3 linked regions of the Homo sapiens genome follow. The protein of the gene in region 3 purifies or fractionates together with the protein of the main gene of each other region. This does not show direct contact. Each region holds a gene or a part of one and is shown on either strand. Other genes may lie near its edges. The genes, in order: PABPC4, EXOSC7 and EIF4G3.

The links.
Region 1: the proteins of EIF4G3 (region 3) and PABPC4 fractionate together in Homo sapiens (co-fractionation; one large-scale study listed by BioGRID). This does not show direct contact.
Region 2: the proteins of EIF4G3 (region 3) and EXOSC7 fractionate together in Homo sapiens (co-fractionation; one large-scale study listed by BioGRID). This does not show direct contact.

The regions. Positions count from the first base shown.
Region 1 is NC_000001.11:39,563,537-39,567,003, reverse strand, and holds part of PABPC4 (polyadenylate-binding protein 4), read left to right. Parts: intron 1-1,625; coding exon 1,626-1,898; exon of another isoform or gene 1,899-1,934; intron 1,935-2,230; coding exon 2,231-2,318; intron 2,319-2,461; coding exon 2,462-2,581; intron 2,582-3,081; coding exon 3,082-3,168; intron 3,169-3,262; coding exon 3,263-3,390; intron 3,391-3,467.
Region 2 is NC_000003.12:45,000,055-45,003,784, reverse strand, and holds part of EXOSC7 (exosome complex component RRP42), read right to left. Parts: intron 2,248-3,730; coding exon 2,177-2,247; intron 1-2,176. UniProt on the Homo sapiens protein: Non-catalytic component of the RNA exosome complex which has 3'->5' exoribonuclease activity and participates in a multitude of cellular RNA processing and degradation events.
Region 3 is NC_000001.11:20,935,898-20,939,397, reverse strand, and holds part of EIF4G3 (eukaryotic translation initiation factor 4 gamma 3), read left to right. Parts: intron 1-3,500. UniProt on the Homo sapiens protein: Component of the protein complex eIF4F, which is involved in the recognition of the mRNA cap, ATP-dependent unwinding of 5'-terminal secondary structure and recruitment of mRNA to the ribosome. Functional homolog of EIF4G1.

The sequences.
Region 1 (3,467 bases), about 19 Mb from region 3:
TGAGAAGGGAAGCCACGTGGGCTGGTAAGGGCTTAGTGGCCCTGCCCTGGCTCTTAGTGGACTTTGCTCCCAACCTGGGAATGTGGAAAGCAATGTTATCAGTTGTAGTAGGGAGTTGGCCAGAGGCCAACTGTGGGTTTGCCCAGTTCTTACCCTTTCGTTTTTGCTATGACCCCCCCCTTGACTGGCCCTCATCAGTGTAAGGAGTGATCTTCTATCCTTGCTTATCTGCCTAGTAGTCAAGTTGGCATTTGTTAAGAGAGCAGAAGAGCCATACCTTGAATTGTCCCCATTTTCATTATGATGGTGTGGCATTTTTATTCACATACCTTACTGGCCCATCTCATTGGTAGAGAGTTATGGAGTGATGCACTTCTTTACTTCCCTATCCTCCACTTCAGGAGGCTCTCTGGGCCATTAACTAAGACATAAAACAATGACAGTCACACCAGAGAAGACAGTGAATAACCTTGTCTATTAGGAAGAATGCCATTTGTGAATGATGAACTTAATGTGGGAAAAGACTGCCTGAACCAGTAGACCTGTGGTTTTGTAGCTGTTTGGAGTATTTCTTGGAAATTGAGCCTCAGGAAGGCAAGTGAGACTAGAATCTAGGCTGCCTATCTCTGAGCTGGTCATCTCATTGAATTAATGGTGGCAGTCATTGGTTACCTGAACATTTTAGGACTCCTGTCCACACGTGGTATTCCAAAAGTGTTATCCTGACGTTGGTAAGAGCTTGTTAGAGTTTGTCCACCGAGGTCTTGAAGCATATGAGATATGAAAATAAATTGCTCAGTACTACTCTCAAGATGTTTTGTGGTTACCCGGAGTAGCTATCCACCAGGTATCAGGAAACATCTTTGAGTTCCTGGTTTTATTATTAGCCATATCATAGTGTTTCAGAACTTTAGCATCACCTGGGGACTCAAAGAAAACACCTAGATACCTTAGAGGTTGTGACTTAGTTGGTCTGGGGTAAATCCTGTGCCAGAACCCTGACCTAGACTCAGTGACTGCAGCAGAACCCAGGCTTTCTGGTTCTTCTGAATAGTTCCCTCCCCACCCAGGGACATCCTTTTTTTTCCTATTTGTAGGTTTGTTTTGTTTTTTTTGTTGGTTTGGTTGGTTGGTGTTTTTGTTTTGTTTTGTTTTGTTTTGTTTTGTTTTGTTTTGGAGATGGAGTCTCGCTCTGTCGCCCAGGCTGGAGTGCAGTGGCGCGATCTCGGCTCACTGCAATCTCTGTCTCCCGGGTTGAAGCGGTTCTCCTGCCTCAGCCTCCTGAGTAGCTAGGATTACAGGTGTGTGCCACCACGCCCAGCTGATTTTTGTATTTTTAGTAGAGACGGGGTTGCACCATGTTGGTCAGGATGGTCTTGAATTCCTGACCTCGTGATCCACCCACCTCGGCCTCCCAAAGTGCTGGGATTACAGGCATGAGCCACTGCGCCTGGCCCTTTGTTTTTTTGAGATGAGGTCTCACTACATTGCTCAAGCTGGTCTCAACCTCCTGAGCTCAAGCAGCCCTCCCACCTCAGCCTTCCAAAGTGCTGGGATTACAGGCACAAGCCATCACACCCAGCCAGGGACACCTTATTTCTTAAGTAGCTGGTCTCATTTTGTAGGTAATGCTGGAGGATGGAAGAAGCAAAGGGTTTGGCTTCGTCTGCTTCTCATCTCCTGAAGAAGCAACCAAAGCAGTCACTGAGATGAATGGACGCATTGTGGGCTCCAAGCCACTATATGTTGCCCTGGCCCAGAGGAAGGAAGAGAGAAAGGCTCACCTGACCAACCAGTATATGCAACGAGTGGCTGGAATGAGAGCACTTCCTGCCAATGCCATCTTAAATCAGTTCCAGCCTGCAGCGGGTGGCTACTTTGTGCCAGCAGTCCCACAGGTGGGTGTGCTGTTTGGTCACAGCTCTTGGGAACCTGCCGGCTGGCAGTATTCTGCAGTGGTTGGGGAGAGGGATTTTTCGTTATTAGAGTTCTAGAATGTCACAATAAGGACCCTTCAAGTAAAAATGAAGGACTTACCCATGGTCACAAACACACACCCACAGTGGCAGTGGTAGCATAAAACAGTCCCCATTAGCTGACCCCTCAGCTCTTGAATAGAAAGAACATTTAAATAATTAGCTTAGGTCCTGGTTAGTGAGATGAGATGAGATACTTCTCTAGGATGGGTTCAGTCCTTAAGGGGGTGTTTGGGTATTCTTCTGTCTTACAGGCTCAGGGAAGGCCTCCATATTATACACCTAACCAGTTAGCACAGATGAGGCCTAATCCACGCTGGCAGCAAGGTGGGAGACCTCAAGGTAGGTGGTGGGGAACAGTAATTGACAGCCCAGGATATACCTGTCCTGGTCTCCCCTGCCTTTCCTTCTTCCCCACTCTGAGGCACAGCCTAGGTTCTGGTCCACATCACTTCTCAATGATGTGCAATTTTTCTCTTCACCAGGCTTCCAAGGAATGCCAAGTGCTATACGCCAGTCTGGGCCTCGTCCAACTCTTCGCCATCTGGCTCCAACTGGTAATGCTCCGGCCTCTCGTGGCCTCCCTACTACCACTCAGAGAGTCGGTGAGCAAACTGGCCTTTAGAAGTGTGGCCTGGGGAGGAGGGAGTCAGGATGACTAGGCTCTGTCCTGGGTTGGTCAGTTTGTTGGGCTCGAATTTATCGAGTCCTGGTTCTGTAATCTTAGCTGTGTGCTTAGGTGGCCACTTCAGGAGCAGAGAAACAGTATGAGTTCTAGGTGTGTCAGTTGCTTTTAACATTCTTTGCTCATCGGTGACCTATGTGAAAAAGGTTAGTTGTAGAAGTTTGCTAGCTGGATGACCACAGAGGCAGCTTGTTCTTTTGGGTGGGGTGAGGAATACAAGGAAACAGTGTATACAGAATATGTCTTGTATTCCAAGATGTGGAAAGAGTTGTATGTTATCCTTTGGCTCATCCTCGAAAGTAGTAGTGGCCCCCTGTGCAATGTGTTGCGTAAACGTGCTTTGAAATTTCTCCTTCCGTGGGACGTGGCCAGTTGGACATCTGCCGCCAACACTGATGTGCATTTGCTGGTCTGTTGTAGGGTCTGAGTGCCCGGACCGCTTGGCTATGGACTTTGGTGGGGCTGGTGCCGCCCAGCAAGGGCTGACTGACAGCTGCCAGTCTGGAGGTGGTATTGGATGCACACAGAAGGGGGAAAGATGGGATTTGACGGGTCTTTGCCCAGACTGATGGGCTTTAATTGTATTTGTTCTTTCCCTAAGGCGTTCCCACAGCTGTGCAGAACTTAGCGCCACGCGCTGCTGTTGCTGCTGCTGCTCCCCGGGCTGTTGCCCCCTACAAATACGCCTCCAGTGTCCGCAGCCCTCATCCTGCCATACAGCCTCTGCAGGTGAGGTTCACCAGACAGAATGCTTAAAAGGATTTCCCCCATTTCCACTTGATGTAAAAGAAGCTGTGCTTTTGATT
Region 2 (3,730 bases), on a different chromosome or scaffold from region 3:
GGTTATCATCAGTGAGTGTAATTGCATGGGGGTACAGAAGGTGTGGGATGCTTCTGGGGTGCTGGCAACATTCTGTTTCTTCAGCTGGGTACTGAAAAACACATTTAACCTATAAAGTCAATTCACTCCAGGCTGGGTTGGAGGAGCCAGGAAGGAAGAGGTGGTCCATCCAGCTACTGTAATGGAAACAGCATTAGTACTTTTCCCAGTTCCTCTAACAAAACCCCCCATGATTGAGCCCTGCTGGCCATCCATACACAAGGCAACATCTAGATCAGATCAGGGGAGCTTCAGCCAGAGAATGTTGACAAGGGCCAAGGAGTTCTGTAAGGGTCTTCCCCATTTGGAGCCTTCCCATCAGAGGAAGTTCTACTAAGTAATATCCTATTTGAACAAGTTGTCAACCATTTACACACACACATACACACACACACGCACGCACGCACGCACGCACGCACAGTATCTCCCAATTTCCCAACCCTTTGGCTACAACAAGCCTGGGCAGAAGGGCTAAAGAATACCCTCAGGTGGCCTTTACCCTTCTAAAGGACCCTGAATATGCCAATAGTCTCTCCACATACCAGGGGGACTTGATGCCTTAGAGTCCCCATTCCTTGCTGCCTGCAGGGCTGTTCTTGGTCTGAGGATGAGACTATGGCTGTGCCCATGACAGGTGTCCTCCCCTACCTGAGCAGCTGGGTTAACCTTTCTGGTATACAGTTTGGCCAGCAACTCCCCCACAGCTAAACAGCCTTGTCTGGTTCCCAATCTCTCTTTTTGCCTGGGTGCCTATAGGAACCAGCTGGCAGATGGGGAGTCATTTCTGAGGCTCAAGATAAATCAGATGACAGCTTCCTTTCCTTCCCCAACAGGGCCCGAGCACCAGCTACTGCTGTGGGATCTGGCACGCAAGCTCCCACGGTGGCCAAGAGTGCCAGGCTCACATTTCAAATAGTCTCAACAAGGAGCCTAGTGGCACAGCTAGGGGTGGGGGACTCTACAGCTTTCATTCTCAGCAAATATTCCAGCCTGCAATTTTTGTCTGCTCTAAATTACACAGGGAGTCTAAACTCATCATAGAAAAGCTCTAAAAAACAGGTAAATGTTATGTTGGCCAAAATATGAGCACTGAAAAATAATTACAGTGATTACTTGGGGGTACATATTTCCAGACACATTACATATAAGAACTACCAAAGTAAAATACAACAAACCAACAAACAAAAACCAGGATGAGGGGACTGCATTTAGTGAACTATTTTCCATATTAACATGCCTTTAAATAGGCTGCTGTGTGGACTTCAATCCCCTCCATTGTGAAACTCAGGTTGTTTCCAGTTTCTTACCATTACAAAGCAGTGTAATGTTTATTCTAGGATGTGATGAACATCCTAGAATAAACATCTTTGCTCATTTATTCAATTATGTCCTTAGGTTATATCCCTAGAAGTTTCTAATCCTCGTTTTTTAATAGGATCCTCTGTTACCTTAATGTAGGCTCTCTCATAGGATGAACACCCTATCCCACGTATTTACTCATAAATGCTGCAAATTTTCCTCAAAGTACTTGGAGCATAAAAGGGGGAAAGGTCAATCAGTCAGAATAAATGTCAACTCCAAAAAAGCATAGCAACTTGTCCCTTCTACACAACCTGTTTGGAAAGCTGAACCATGTGGAATAGCCATTTCCTCTTCTTAAACCAAAGGGAAGCCTGTTACCCTGCTTTTAGAACACACATGTGTACAATCAAGCAATATGCAAGCACTTACTATGTGTCAGGTACTGTTCATGGTGCTAGGAATATAGGCAAGTACAAAACAGGCAAAATCCTTGCCCCCATAGAGTTCACCCAGTAATAGTATTTGGATAGTTGGCCTGTAGGTGGTGTCTACTCTTCTTGGCTTCTCTGTAGTTTTCTAATATTTTTCTAAATGGTAGGTGTCTATTTATAAAAATAACAATACAAAAAATAAATACAGAATATACGTATATATGTAGTTTTAATTCACGAAATCTATCTTTTCTGGAGTTTAACGTTAGATGTCACCATTTTCAATGTTAAAACCCCCTGTTATCTTCACATATGAGCTACAATAGAAATTTCCTCAGTGTTCCATTACAAGTGTCTGCTCTGGTTCTCCACAGGTTCGCAGAGCTGTTTCTAGGAAGACTTACCTTGTATTGAAGAGAGCAGCCTTTACAGCAATGGAAATGGCATCAAACAAATTTCCACCACATTCCAGAAGCTAAGGGAGACAGGAATTGAAAAAGGAAAAAAAACCAAGCATCACTTATTACTTTAGGTATTACCCCAGTTAAAGGACACTGCTTTTTTTTTTTTGAGACAGAGTCTCGCTCTGTCACTCAGGCTGGAGTGCAGTGGTGCAATCTTGGCTAACTGCAACCTCTGCCTCCCAGGTTCAAGTAATTCTCCCACCTCAGCCTCCCGAATAGCTGGGATTACACGTGTGCGCCACCACCCCCAGCTAATTTTTGTATTTTAGGGTTTCACCATGTTGGCCAGGCTGGTCTTGAACTCCTGACCAAAAGTGATCCGCCTACCTCAGCCTCCCAAAGTGCTGGGGTATAGGCATGAGCCACCACGCCCGGCCAGGACACCGATTTTTTTTTTTCTTTCCCTAAATCTATTCTGTGGTCAAGGACACTGATTTCTAAGAAATGCTGACTGTGTGTTTATAAAATAAAGATAACATGTGGCTTCTCTCCTGGCTAGCCATGCAGTGACTGCAACTCACTGACACAGTCCTTCACCCTAATTACAGGCACTGCCTTGTCATAGCTGTGCTTACGTGGCCCATGCACACAAGGTCACAGTTGGCAGGGCTGTGGTACCAACACTCAGAGGCCATGGCTTGTGGGTGGGCTCCTCTCACAGGCACTTCAGGCAGTTGGGGCTGCCCTGAAGGTGGGACTGATCACCTTTATTTTGCCCCAGATAGCTCCCAATTGTACTCCAAGTGTTACTCTAATCTTTGCTAACATATGCCTGGCCTCCAAACAAGGAGAAAACGGTGGCTACTGATGTTGCGGCTGCTACTAGGTTCACATTTACTAGTGTAATTACTTCTCGTATGTAATGATCAATGTATATCTGATGCTCAGACATGAAATACTACATGTTTTACATTACTTATAATGAAGACTAAAGTCTCTCAGACAAGCTTCTGCCCATGAGCGAAAGTGTTGAGTGCACTTACGTATGCTCATCTAGCAGGGAAAATTAGAGCACATTTAACTGGAAGGTGGCATATCCTTCTGTCCTCATTTTAGAGAGGCCTTGGCCTGAGGTTATGGAATAAAGCCGACTGGGCTGCCCCAAATAAGAAAGGTGAGAAGTCACACATAGAAAGAAAAGTCATGTAGTTCTGTTTTTGTTTAGAGTCTATCTCCTCTGCAGTTGAACTGTGAACTCCTAAAGGCTGGGACTCTGTAGTTTTGTTCATCCTTTTATCCCCAGAGCCCAACAGAAGGGGTGCTATGAGGAAGAAGGTTAGTGATTATTTGTGAAAGAACCCATCAAAAGACAGGCTTGTGACCAATCACCCCACCAAAGGTCAGCTGTGTGTTGTTAGTGCAGCAAAGTTCTAACAGGTTTCCCTCTTGGAGTAAAAACTGATGCCATTAGAGAACTATAAAGAGCAAAGCAAAGTGAAATTTCCATGAAGTTAAATTTTCACTCTCATAAAATAACCGAACTGAGGGGAAAAA
Region 3 (3,500 bases):
ACACCAGCACCTTAATCAAAGAGTATAGACTCTTCAGTGGTAATCCAGAGAGCACTTAGAAAAGAAAGAACTGTTTTTTTAATGACTTGGAATAACAGAGGTTTGTGATGTTGGGAGGTAAAGTTTCTTGGCATTTTTCTAGTCTCCTGATTTTTTAACCTATGTGTTTAAGGGAATTACAAGTTTTATAATTTCCTTGTACATCTTAATAGTCTTCAAAATCCAACAGTAAATGAACTTCAAGAACCCCTGCAACTCTAGCTTTTTTTTTTTTTTTTTTTAATTTTTTTTAAGATGGAGTCTCGCTCCATCGCCCGGGCTGGAGTGCAGTGGTGCAATCTCGGCTCACTGCAACCTCTGGCTCCCAGGTTCAAGCAATTCTCCTGCCTCAGCCTCCTGAGTAGCTGGGATTATAGGCGTGTGCCACCACGCCTGGCTTATTTTTGTATTTTTAGTAGAGACGGGGTTTCACCTTGTTGGTCAGGCTGGTCTCGAACTACTGACCTTGTGATCCGCCCGCCTCAGCCTCCCAAAGTGCTGGGATTACAGGCATGAGCCACCACACCTGGCCAGCAGTTTGTAAATTATAAAGCCTCAGAAGCATTTCTGACCCATTCATTTCTGTCCGAATATTTTTTAATGGTTTTGTCACAAAAGTTAACAATGAAAATTAAAATTACCTCCAGTCTTTAAGTATATCCACCTGACGTGGTCATATGCTTAATGACTATAATTTATTTGCACTTATTCACATAATATTCACTTATTATACCTTGTTTACTTTGAGAAGTTAGTAAATCATAACAGCCGTTTACTTTGAGAAGTTAATAAATTGTAACACCAAAACAGTCTGGTTTGCCTATGAGTCTTTTGGTGGTGACTTTTGAGAATAGTTTTTACTTGTCTCTGCCTGAGGATGAAACACCTCAAAGCTGGCTTCAGAAACCTGATACATAAATAACATATCAGTTGGTATAGAGATAGTTGGTTAAAGCAGTAAAGTTATAACATAAGGGATATGGTATCTTTTAGTTCTGCTGCAAAACATTTTCTTGTAACTATTCTAGATCATATTTCTGAGTGAATAAAAATGCATCAGTTGAGGCCGGGCGCGGTGGCTCATGCCTGTAATCCCAGCACTTTGGGAGGCTGAGGAGGGTGGATCACCTGAGGTCACGAGTTTGGGACCAGCCTGGCCAACATGGTGAAACCCCGTATCTACTAAAAATACAAAAATTACCCAGGAGTGGTGATGCGCCTGTAATCCCAGCTATTCTGGAGGCTGAGGTGGGAGAATTGCTTGAACTTGGGAGATGGAGGCTGCAGTGATCCAACATCGCGCCACTTCACTCCAGCCTAGGCAACTGAGCAAGACCCCATCTTAAAAAAAAAAAGAAAGCATCAGTTGTTTTCGGATTGAAGAACAAGCTCTGTAAAATTAGAATTTGGTGTGTATATATCTTCAGTGTACTCTGAAAAGCCTCAGTTATTGGCCACACTTTTAATATCACCGTCACTTTAGTAATTAAATGCATAAAACTAGATATTAATTGGATGATATATTAAAGTCTTGGGAATTTTTATTGTTTATTCTCTGTATCTGGTGGGAGGAAAAAGGAGTGTTTTGAACTTGTGGGAAAGCATTCCCCATTAATCATCCAGGAGTTTGTTTTCTACAATTTTAGGAATGTATATGATGTATAGTATGTAACATTAACTTTCCCACTTTTTAAAAGAATTGTGACTTTTTTATTTTATTATTTTTACCTGTATCAGATATAAAACCATTATTTAAATTTTCTTAGGCAGAGGGAGATTTCTAATTTTTCTATTTATTTTGTTTTTTTGGCTCTTGCTTATAGTACATTTTTAATGTATATTTTGTAAGTTTGTTTTATGAACTTATCCAGATAAATTTTCCTGGATGTAGATTGATGGCAAGTTATTCTAAAGCAGATTTGTGTTTACTTTATCTGCTGCATGTCTTGGGGAAAGCATTTGCTGGAACTAAATCTGGGTTTAATGTTTGTTAGAACTAAATCTGGGTTTAATGTCCTAAAGCTACAGTTCTATCCCAAAGCCTAAGGACAGCCATACCGTATGGCTTGGATACTAATTTTCAGGGTAACAGCAATCTTCTCTCCATCCAGTTGAAACAACGTCCTTTCTCATCATCACTGTGTTGGTTCAGTGGTTTATTCCCTCTCTCTCTTTTTTAAGCTATCTTTTCACTGAGCATGTCACCCATTTGGGAGTCTCAGAGCTTTATGTGAGCATCTCAGTTCCAGGTTCCCACTTTGCAGGGATCCAAGATCTCTCTTTTCTTATGGGTGTTAAAAATACAAATTCATTGGTTATAGAGACTGGCACACCCTTCTACACCCCCAGGAATGTAAGGATGGCATCAGCCACTGACCTGTAGTTTACCTTATATTCTCGTAAGCTCAGCTAAGGATGTAGAAGGGTTTCCAGATTCTGTAGAATATAACATAGGAAGTTTATTTCTCAAATGGAGATACGATTATATGTTTTGGTAATGTTAACAAAATACTGATCCATGTAGCCAATCAAGTTGCTGCTTTCTCTTTTAGTTTAGACTTACTGAAGTGTAAAGGGAGCATACTTCAGTGCAAGAAAAATATTTTAATAACAACCCTTGCTTTATTCTCAACTGTGAGAGTATTCAGAGTACTTTCAAAGAAATAAACATAGCAAACATAAAACCAGAGATATAAAAGTCTATCAGTTTTCCTAGATTAAACTAAAAATGACTAATCTTTTAAATAATAAAATTTATTCTAACCTTTGCTCAACTTACATATTCTAAAATATATTTGAAATATCTCTGGAAGATTTAGTCGCTGGGGCCAAAAGTAGATTGCCAATGGTTTGAGTATCCTGTTGGCCTAATCACTATACTACTATGCATCCTTATAATTTAGCTTCTACAGAAACGTGTTCTGGAAACATGGAAACAGGACTCCTTACACATTCCTGGTTCTTTGTCATCTACCAAAACAAGCAGAGTGATCCTTAAAGCAAGGACCATTGGCTTCAGTTTTCAGAGGCTTGAGTCTGAGTGATCCTTAGGGATAAATAAAGGTTTTCTCCACCTTGTTTGTAAACTGTTTCCAACAAAGCTGCCTAAAAGGTATGTTTCTGCCATCCCATTCCTATTTTCTTGTTTCCCTCCCCAGTAAACTCTTAGGCATTCCTTGGAAAATACTGATGCTGGTCAAATTCTTTTATATACTGCAGAATGAGCCCAGACACCTGTTAGTTGAGCCTGTTGGCAAGTCCCTTACGTAGTTCTTCCTTGCCTCTTTATGTGGGATAGATTTCCCCATTTTTTACAGTAGTTCATGTCTTTCATCATGAGCCCTAAAGTCTCAGTCATTGGGTATTAACTTAGTTCTACATCTTTCTGAGTAGTTATACTTTGTTCAAAATGTAGCTCCCTTTTCCCCACATTTAGTAACTAATCCTCCTCCATGACAAAG